Linked DNA regions of Homo sapiens: region 2 is linked to region 1. Evidence: fine-mapped expression QTL. A gene starts in region 1. The other region holds a variant in brackets. All regions are shown on one strand. Distances are between the middles of the regions. Region 1 holds the start of CARD8 (caspase recruitment domain family member 8). Region 2 overlaps CARD8 (caspase recruitment domain family member 8).

Region 1 (5,540 bases):
CTTTAGTTACACCTGTATTAGGAGAGTTATGATCAATTACAGCAGTTGTAGTTTCTGAGAACTTGGATAAATACAAACCTGAATTACACAGAATTTATGTAAATCCAGATATTCAAAAATGAGAAATAATGTAATATATGACCAAAGTAATATCAAGACAACATACAATTAAATCACTCAACAATTACTGGGAATATGTATCAAGGCAAGAATTGTAAAATTCTACCTGGTACTTCTGAAATGAACAAGGCAATGAGAAATAACAGTTTATCTTGTCTATTACTGAGTATCAATGAAAGCAATAAGGTGAACGGAAAAGTCCATGCAAACTCCATTTTCAGAATAACGAGGAGACAGATAGAATTCACAGATCCACATGTTTCTCACTGGCTGACAAAACTGTGTTAAGTCAGGGTGAAGCATAGCGGAGGAACAGGGAGGAAGTGCAGAGTGAGAAAACATAAAGAAGTCAGGAAGTGCCAGAAGAGTAATTTCCTGTGAGTAAAGCCTCATACTCGGTGATTTATCGATAGAGTTTGAATACAAGAGCTGTGAGGTCTGGGCAGTTGGAGTGGAGGCTGAGCAGGAGATAAATGTGGTAGAGGCGGTGTGGTTGGGAGATCCTTGAAAACAGAGAAATGCCCTAGTATGGCAGAGTACAGAAATACTACAAAAACTCACTTGTAGAAAGAACATTCTGCATATAATCAGGCATGGAACGGTCCCATGCATTCCATAATAATTAAGAAAAAGATATTGGCAGAGCATTGCTTAAAGGCACTGCAAGAAAATAGGTGAGAAGACCAGTAAGTTTTATTTATTTATTTTATTATTTTATTATTTGTTTTCGAGATGAAGAACAATCAAAGGAAAATGATGGACGGAAATTAACAATCATTCTTGGGCGGGGGGAAAAACTCCACCCACAATTCCTAAGTAAAAAGGGTTACACACATTCTCGGCATAATAAGTCTCTCTCAGGCCAAATGTGTTCATGTGAACACTATGAAGGCATTCCAGCTGAGGTCAGGAAAATACCAAGTATGACCTTCCCTATTTAAGTTAAAATATTGGAAGCTTATTCCAAAATATTGGAATAAATTTGAAATACAGTGATTGAATGGAAGGACATTAAATTATAACTCATTAGACATGTTATTTTACTCTATAGACAAACACAACAAATCACCTGAAATAAGCTATAAAAGATAAACCAGTAAGTTAGAGAAATAATCTTTTTTTTTTTTTGAGATGGAGTCTCCCTCTGTTGCTTAGGCCAGAGTGCAGTGGCGCAGTCTTGGCTCACTGCAACCTCTGCTTCCTGAGTTCTAGTGAGTCTCCTCCTCAGCCTCCCAAGTAGCTGGGATTACAGGCATGTGCCACCATGCCTGGCTAATTTTTTTTGTATTTTTAGTAGAGATGGGGTTTCACCATGTTGGACATGCTGGTCTTGAACTCCTGACCTCAGGTGATCTGCCTGCCTCAGGTTCCCAAGTGCTGGGATTATAGGCTTGAGCCATTGCGCCTGGCCAGAAGAATCTTAATGTACAAAAATGAATAGGTTTTTAATACAACAGACTATCCCAATTCCTTGAAAGAAGAAAATACACCCATTAAAACAGAAACTATGGTGCCTAGAATTAAACTGCACAAAAAACTACATGACCCATATAATTTTTTTATGTTGAAATAATTTTAAACATGCAAAATTAGCAAAGATTCATATAAATCCTCAACCAGCCTATCCTGATGTTAGCTATATATATAATTGTATTATATGTATAATAGTTGTTATATATAAAACTGTATATATACATTTATTGTATTATAATCATATATATACATTTATTGTATTATATATAATATACAACTGTATATGTAATTGTAATATAATAATTATATACATAATAGTATATGTAATACAAGTATCCAACCAGGAAATTGATGTCAACGTATCTTACCATTACCTAATGTGCAGACCTTATTTGAATTTTGTCAATATTTCTCTTAACGTCCTCTTTCTTCTCCAAGATCGAATCGAGGATCTCACATTGCACTCAGTTGTTATGTCCTTAGATTCCTCCAGGCTGTGACCGTTTCTTATTCTTCCCTTGTCTTTTGTGATTGTGACACTTTTGCTGAGCATGGCCAATTATTTTACAGAATGTTTATCAATTTGGATTTCTTTGATGTTTTCTCACGATTAGGCTGAGGTCATGCATGTTTGTCTTCTGTGTTCAGTCAATATGCCCCATCCTTTTTCAAATATTTCTTCATGTTCTGGCGTCAGAATTTGTTCCAATGTTATCTTATATATTCCTGCCCCAGCCCTCGAAGTAACCATTTCTCCACAGATACTTCAAAATAGTATTTAGAAACCAAGGCCGGGCACAGTGGCTCACGCCTGTAATCCCAGCACTTTGGGAGGCCGAGGCGGGCTGATCTCGAGGTCAAGAGACGGAGACCATCCTGACCAACATGGTGAAACTCCGTCTTTACTAAAAATACAAAAAATTAGCCGAGCGTGGTGGCATGCACCTATAATTCCAGCTACTCGGGAGGCTGAGGCAAGAGAATCGCTTGAACCTGGGAGGCAGAGGTTGCAGTGAGCCGAGATTGCTCCATTACACTCCAGCCTGGGTGACAGACGGAGACTTCATCTCAAAAAAAAAAAAAAGTAATATTGATTAAAAATCAAATTGCATGAGAATGCATAGCAGGATACCAAGCAAATACAACTTTTAAATATTACAGAAAATGATATTTAAAATACAAACCAAATACATAAATCATGCAGGCGGATTAAGACGTTTCTGGATAGTGGTAACAGCTGAGAGTGGCTGGATGAATTCCAGAGAAATTTCATATATTGCTTCAATTTTATTTAAAATATACTATTACCTATGTCTTAGATATTTTATTTTAAATAATGAACAAGGATATTATAAACTCTGCAGAAGTAAGTGTAATCGTGTTTTTTTCCTGCCCACATTAAAGATGGCCCAGATGCTTGCACTGACCCCATTGACTGCCCACAGCCATCATGGCGACCGGAAGTCCTGAGAGCTTACTTCCCTCAGTTCTCAGAAAGCCCACCTCCTCTGCGAGCGTTATTTCAAAAGAAGTTGAGAACCAGAGAAACCGACCTAAGGGGATTCTCCCATTTGGCCCGTCCTACCCTAAAGTCACCACCTGCTGCTTTTCTGGAGCGCTTACCAGGTGAGTTTCAGGAGCCCTAGTGTACAGGAAGGAGAAACGGAGGCTTGTTGGTAGGACACCGCCAGGCTGCTCTGTGTTCTGTTCCTCTTAGTCAGCAAGGAAGGAGTACGACAAAGTGAGAAGTTCATATGAGCGTGTCAGAAGGGGAAATAGGGCCCCTCCCTTGTTAAAAACAAAACCCTCTGGAAGCTCGGCATCCTGTCATAACTTAAATTTATGACTTCAGTGACTTGGCTTGGACAGTCTTAATAATCTCTCTCACACTCAATTTGTTTTAATTTCTGTAATAATAATTTTTATACCAATGTTTATGTTGTTAATACTAATAATTTTACACTGTAACTGTATAACTTTAATTATTAGAAGTGTTAACCTAACTAACAAACATATGAAAGCTTCCTAAGGGAAACAATTTTTTTTTCTTTTTGAGATGGAGTCTCGCTCTGTGGCTAGGCTGGAGTACAGTGGCATGATCTTGGCTCACTGCAACCTCTGCCTCCCAGGTTCAAGCGATTCTCGTGCCTCAGTCTCCCAAGTAGCTGGGACTACAGGCGTGCACCACCACATCCAGCTAATTTTTTATTTTTTAGTAGAGACGGGGTTTCACCATGTTGGCCAGGATGGTCTCCGTCTCTTGACCTCGAGATCAGCCCGCCTTGGCCTCCCAAAGTGTTGGGATTACAGGCGTGAGCCACTGCGCCCAGCCGGAAACAATGTTTATTTGGGAATAGAGCATTGCAATTGGGAATAGACATGCCGTATTAAACTATGTGTATATTCAGGGAGATAAAGGAAGACAGAAATGGGGAGGATTGCATATTGTTTTAACAGAATTTTCCTTGGCTACAAAGATCAGTAACAAGGGTGACATTAGTCCTAGGTTGGACCAGCAGTTGCTGGGCAGCATTCCTTGCAGAAATATATATTTTTTTAAGGTTGTGAAGACCTTTATGTAAGGTTGTGGGTTTTGTAGAGTCTTTTTCATCTTCAGGCATGCAAGGATAAGAGCCCTCTCTTCATGGCCTTCCTGGCTCTATTTGTCAGGGTTATCTTAACATAAGTGACTCCATTTTGTTCTGACAACTTTCAGATTTCCCCTTGTGATCAAGAAGTTTCTCTGAAAGCACTCTCCTGCCTCAGCCTCCCGAGTAGCTGCGACTACAGGTGCCCACCACCACACCCAGCTAATTGTTTTTGTGTTTTTAGTAGAGACGGGGTTTCACTATGTTGGCCAGGCTGGTCTCGAACCCCTGACTTGTGATCTGCCCACTTCGGCCTCCCAAAGTGCTGGGATTACAGGGATGAGCCACCGCACCAGGCCTGCATTTCTTTTTTCAAAGAATTACTGTGGCATTTTTTCCAATGTCATTGTGTTCTGTGGTTCTTATCTAGTCTTCACATTTATTTACATAATGAACTTTCAATGATGGATTTCTACAGAATTTTTGTCACTAAGTGGTTGCCTAGAAGTATATATCCTAAGATTGAACATATTGAAATATGAGCTAACTTTTCTCATTCAATTATTGATTACTTAGTTAGTTTATTTATTATTTGGGGGATGGGATCTTGCAATGCTGCCCAGACCAGACTCAAACTCCTGGGCTCAAACTCCTACCTCAGCCTCCCAAGTAGGTGGGATTACAGGCATGTACTACTTCACCTGGCTCAATTATTTATTATTTATAACTCATTGTACATATATTCAGATAACTTAATCTGTGCATTAAACTCTTCCACTTTGTTGATAGTCATTTCTGTGTTTGCTATGTGGCTACATATGTATGCTATGTGTTTCCTCTATGCTTGAGATAGGATGATGGGGATTCTTCAATGGCTGTGTGAGTTGTTATTCTAGGGCACTTAAGTCAAGAATATGAATTGCTTTGGTCAATTTTTTATATCTTTACTGATACTCTGTTATTCTGTTAATTGCTGAAAGACTATTGAACAGATTTCCCACAAGAGTGGAGGATTATTCTATATCTGTTTATCATTCTACCCGTGTATACTATATACATATTGAAAGTGTGAATATGTATACACAAAATTAAAATTGTTATTCTTATTGAAGTGATCTACTTTATACTTAGTAATGCTGTTTAGGTAAAATATATTTTGTCTAATATTATTGGAGGTGCACCTGCTCCCCATTGATTACATTTTTACACAGATAGTCATCTTGCATTCTTTTATTGGAATCTTAATATAACTTCTTTGGGTTTATCCCCTGTAAGATGGAGGGAAATGCTCTTGAAGCCTAATTTGTCTGACATTCATATTGTTGCTCCAGATTCTTTTTAATAACCATGTATATGGTA
Region 2 (5,000 bases), 23 kb after region 1:
CAAGGTGGAAGGATTTCTTGGGGCCGGGAATTCAAGACCAGCCTGAGACCTCATCTCTATTCCCTGGAGTCCTCTTCAAAGCAGATTTTGTTGCCAGACGTCCTATGCCTATGTCCATTACCCAGAAAAATTCTTTTAGTTTCACGTGGCTGGGGAGGCCTCACCATCATGGCAGAAGTCAAAGGAGGAGCAAAGGCATGTCTTACATGGTGGCAGGCAAGAGCCACGTGTGGCTTTTGAGCACTTGAAATATGGCTACTTCAAAGGAGGAACTGATTTTCACATTTAACAATTTAAAACTAAATGTAAATAGGCAGGTGTGGCTAGTGGCTGTCATATTGGCCATTGAATATCTTGGCATAAAGGACACTCCATCACTCCTAACCTCAATCTTGATTCCTGCCAGCCATAGGAGGACAGCACCAAGCCTTCAAAAATGAAGAAGAGAAAAGGATCTAGCATAGGACTCTCATGTTCCATATCTGAATAAGGATCCTTGATGGGAAAAGAAAGTGTGTACAATATCCATAATTTTCTTTTTCTGTGAGCATTTTTGTTGCTTTATGCAACCCCTCTCACCATTTGCAGGCAGAAGGGAGAAGAGGAGATAACTGTTCCATGGGTTCTTATAAAACATGCCCAATCTCACTAATGCCCTGCAATCCCAATCATTTTAGGGTCCTATTCTCTCGGGCACCAATTATGGATGAAGGGAGACTACAAATTAGGAATCTCATCCTTTCCCTAAAATTCTTAGCAAGGTTATATAGGTCAACATACTTGTTGACCTATTATGAAACCAATGTTTGTGGCAAATGCTAGATGTTGAGAACTGACTGACGTCTGCTTCCTAGGATGGAAAGAGCAGCATATAGTGGGAAACAGAGAGCCAGTTAAATTTAACATAATGAGATGTAAGAAAGAGTCATGGGAGTCTGAGAGGTGAGATGGAGTCGTAGGGGCCTGAGGAATGACTTCCCTAAGATAAAATATTGAGTCTATGGCTATTAACATAAAATCTTCCTGCACAGCCTATGCTATCATCAGGCACCTACCTTATATTCATAGTAAAAATTCTGTTGTTGTTTTCCAGGGTATACAGGGAGCTACCCTGTGTTTCTGAGACCCTTTGTGACATCTCACATTTTTTCCAAGAAGATGATGAGACAGAGGCAGAGCCATTATTGTTCCGTGCTGTTCCTGAGTGTCAACTATCTGGGGGGGACATTCCCAGGTAAGAAAAGCTATTCCGTTGGAAAACTATTGGACGCTGTGTCTCAATATCACAGAGGAACATGAGAATTAGAGGAATTTGGGTGTTTTTCATCGAACTCAGGGGAGAATGAATGAGCTTATGCAATACTAGCAATGAATCCAGAAATTTTTGAAACAAACCTTAAGCAATGAGGTTTTCTTCCATGGAGGTGTCTAGAGAACCTATACACAAAAAGGCAATGAGCAATGCAATCGAAGACCAGTGGGTTATTGGTTAAGCTGTTACTCAATACATAAAACCAACCTAATTCTCTAGGAAACTGGCTGATGATGAGGCTGAAGGCCACAGTGGGGTCCTGAGGTTTAACACCGGGGAGGGGAGAATGCGTCTATTTGTAGGGTATGCCAATTTCCAAGGGTTGAATATCCCCATCATGGCAGATTTCAAACTACCAACGTGAAGCCCCTGATGAGGGAGTTGAAAGAACACATGCAGAAGTCTGTCATCCTGCTTTCACCACACAGATACAAGAGACATAAATAACCTCAAGGGCATAGACTGCTGAAAAGTGTAGAAAAATGACTGGAAATTGGTATGTTTTAATATGTATTACTTTTGTTTTTAATATGATTTATTTAAATGTTAGCTTGTATCATTTAATTTAGACTAATGGTTGTGTTGAACAACTTGGTTGCAAAAGCCCTGAAAATGGAACCGTCAGCTCTCATGATCTGGGATGCGCTGTCTGCAGTTCAGCGCTGGGTTCCTCCCACTTTCTAAACCCCTCCTCAGCAGGCAGACTCCAGCATGCACATGCACCAGGAAAGAGAATATAAAATGGCATGTTTACTCTTGCTGCTTTGCCTGTAGCTACCCGAATCCATAGCAAAATGTGTAGCCGCAGACAGCAACCAGTCTTAGGATGTCAGCCCAGGGGTCTCTCCATGCTTGGCTTGCCCACAGAATCCTTCCGAGAAAAGCGCTGTAAAGCCTTTCTCTTCATCCCACTTCTCTAGGTACCTGTTCTTTTTAAACCTAATCCACGTGTCAGTTTCTCTGCTGGTCTCTTTCACGTCGAAATAAACAGATATCTCAAGGAATGGATCAAAGGCAGAGAATTTGATGGAGTTGGTTGCCTTGCTCCAGAAGGTATCACCTGTGTTAGGGCAGGTTTCTCTCCAGAGGCATGACGAACCATTGGCTCACGCTGTATGTCATAGAACCCATATTGGCTAATATTGGAATCACCTGTGAGGCTTTGAAAGCGCCGATGCTTTGGTGCCACCTCCAGACTTCTGATTCAATTGATGTGGGCTGTGACCTGGTATTGGGTGGTTTTTAAAGCTTCCCAGGTGTGGTCAAGTTTGGAATTACCTTGGAATATAAATGCATACATTTTACGCATTGGTGAATTACTGCTTCAGTCTTTGATTCCGACATCGTATGATACCAAT[C/G]GGAGCAATCAATTTAAGCCAGAGAATCTGGCTGTGTCCACATTGAACGTGGGCATAATACAAAGAGAAGAAGGAGAGATGTCAAGACACATTTGGCTCAAGGGAGTGTGTTATCTCTATTATTTATAAATGTGGATAAAAATATCTTCATTCAAAATGTCTTCTATTTCTTGATAGTCTAGATCCGCCCAGTCTAAGAGAACTTTCTGTGATGACGGGAGTGTTCCATTCTCTGCTACACAGTGTTATAGCCGTGAGTGATATGTAGCTGTTGAGCACTTGAAATATGGATAGTGCAACTGAGAAACTAAAGTTTACCTAAGTTTAATTCATACAAATTTAAATAGCATATCCGGGTAGCGGCTACTCTACGGGACAGTGCAGCTCTAGTTTTCAATAACATCGTCTTCATCTTCATCAACTGATTCTTGATGTTTTTCATCTTTTTGTAACATGGGGATCCCAACCTCCAGTGTATCAGAAGAGCAGGAATCTTCAGAGGGACAAGATTCAGGTAATGGGCTAATAGGGAGAGGAGTGAAGGGCGTGTGGATTGATGGAAATGTTCTGTGATTTTATGTGAAGAAGACAATTTAGAGTCTTTTGTGCAGATCAGGAGTGCTTTCCCTTACCTTTGCCACAGTGCACTGTGCAGTTTAAATGGGGACATGTAAGCCTGTCACTGCTGGGGCATGGAAATGCTCAGGGGAGTCAGTGGGTGGTCCTGGTGGCTGGGGACAGCAGCAGGGCCTAGGAAGGATGCACGCTCTTTCGCCTCTGCATCTTTGGAGTTCGATACTTTTCTGACCTGGACTTTCCTCACCAGCAGAAAGTGTCTTCTGCTATTTCGGACCAGTAGAAATGTAGGTGCATTGGTTCCAGTCCTCAGCAAATGGTGCCTCCCACCAAAGCTGTCCAGCCTGGCTTCCCAGAAAGTCTTATGGAATTTGGTGTATACGTTTAGTCATGACAAGGAACATTCTTGTGCCTTTCTTTGTCTGGATTCAAAGAAGCGAAACTGCATATTCTGGTCACTCTCAGCTCTCATTCGATATCTGTATCCCAACAGCACCTGTGCAATTCAGCCTCCAGGAGTCCTTCAGGCCATGCCTCTTCCAACCCTTTACCTCTTACATGTCTAGTATTTTCTTTTCAGGAGACATTTGCTCAGAAGAGAATCAAATAGTTTCCTCTTATGCTTCTAAAGTCTGTTTTGAGATCGAAGAAGATTATAAAAATCGTCAGTTTCTGGGGCCTGAAGGAAATGTGGATGTTGAGTTGATTGATAAGAGCACAAACAGATACAGGTAAGAATGGAAGATGCTGATGATTTGAAAACCACTCTGATATAAAGGAAGTGTGTAGGCCAGGCGTGGTGGCTCAGGCCTGTAATCTCGGCACTTTGGGAGGTGGAGGAGGGCGGATCACAAGGTCAGGAGTTCGAGACCAGCCTGGCCAACATGACGAAACCCTGTCTCTACTAAAAATACAAAAATTAGTCAGGCGTGGTGGCACCCGCGTGTAGTCCCAGCTAATCAGGAGGCTGAGAAAGGAGAATCTCTTGAACCCAGGGGGCAGAGGTTGCAGTGAGATGAGATCTCGCCACTGCACTGCAGCCTAGGAGACAGAGCGAGACTTTGTCTCAAAATAAATAAATAAATAAAAATATAAATACAAAAGGAAGCGTATCGGTTCCATCCCTTATGATAGCTAAAATTTCATCAATAATATGTTTATTTCATGCACTGTGAAGTTGGTATTTTAATTTCAACATATATAGAATGCAGAGAAATTGGGGCCCAGAGAGGTTAATGAACTCCCCAGCGTTTTCTAATGTAGTGAAAGTCGCAGATGGGTCCTGAACCTTGCCTCACTTCAAATCCCACCTCCCTCTGCACATCGCTGCTTAAATCCAAGTCCTGGGGTTCTCCCGTCATGACATCACTCTGGCTCCTTTCAGCGTTTGGTTCCCCACTGCTGGCTGGTATCTGTGGTCAGCCACAGGCCTCGGCTTCCTGGTAAGGGATGAGGTCACAGTGACGATTGCGTTTGGTTCCTGGAGTCAGCACCTGGCCCTGGACCTGCAGCACCATGAACAGTGGCTGGTGGGCGGCCCCTTGTTTGATGTCACTGCAGAGCCAGAGGAGGCTGTCGCCGAAATCCACCTCCCCCACTTCATCTCCCTCCAAGGTAATGTGGGGTGAGCGGAGGCTGTGGGGGCCGCTGGGGTGCGTGCCGTCTCACTGCTGTTGTGGTTCTCCTGCAGCAGGTGAGGTGGACGTCTCCTGGTTTCTCGTTGCCCATTTTAAGAATGAAGGGATGGTCCTGGA

The links.
Region 2: its variant is fine-mapped to the expression of CARD8 in lung (TOPMed, PIP 0.91).

The regions. Positions count from the first base shown.
Region 1 is chr19:48,253,471-48,259,010 of GRCh38, reverse strand. CARD8 (caspase recruitment domain family member 8) reads left to right here and starts at 3,099. Exons shown (of 14, transcript NM_001184900.3): 1 at 3,099-3,219. CARD8-AS1 (CARD8 antisense RNA 1) reads right to left here and starts at 3,336. Exons shown (of 2, transcript NR_040599.1): 1 at 3,217-3,336; 2 at 817-2,660. RefSeq lists an enhancer at 2,991-3,230.
Region 2 is chr19:48,230,637-48,235,636 of GRCh38, reverse strand. CARD8 (caspase recruitment domain family member 8) reads left to right here. Exons shown (of 14, transcript NM_001184900.3): 6 at 1,094-1,234; 7 at 3,144-3,184; 8 at 3,827-3,977; 9 at 4,631-4,860; 10 at 4,937-5,000. Among named protein-coding and RNA genes, the nearest start is that of CARD8-AS1, 23 kb to the left of the region's middle. The variant C/G (reference allele first, on the strand shown) is at 2,671.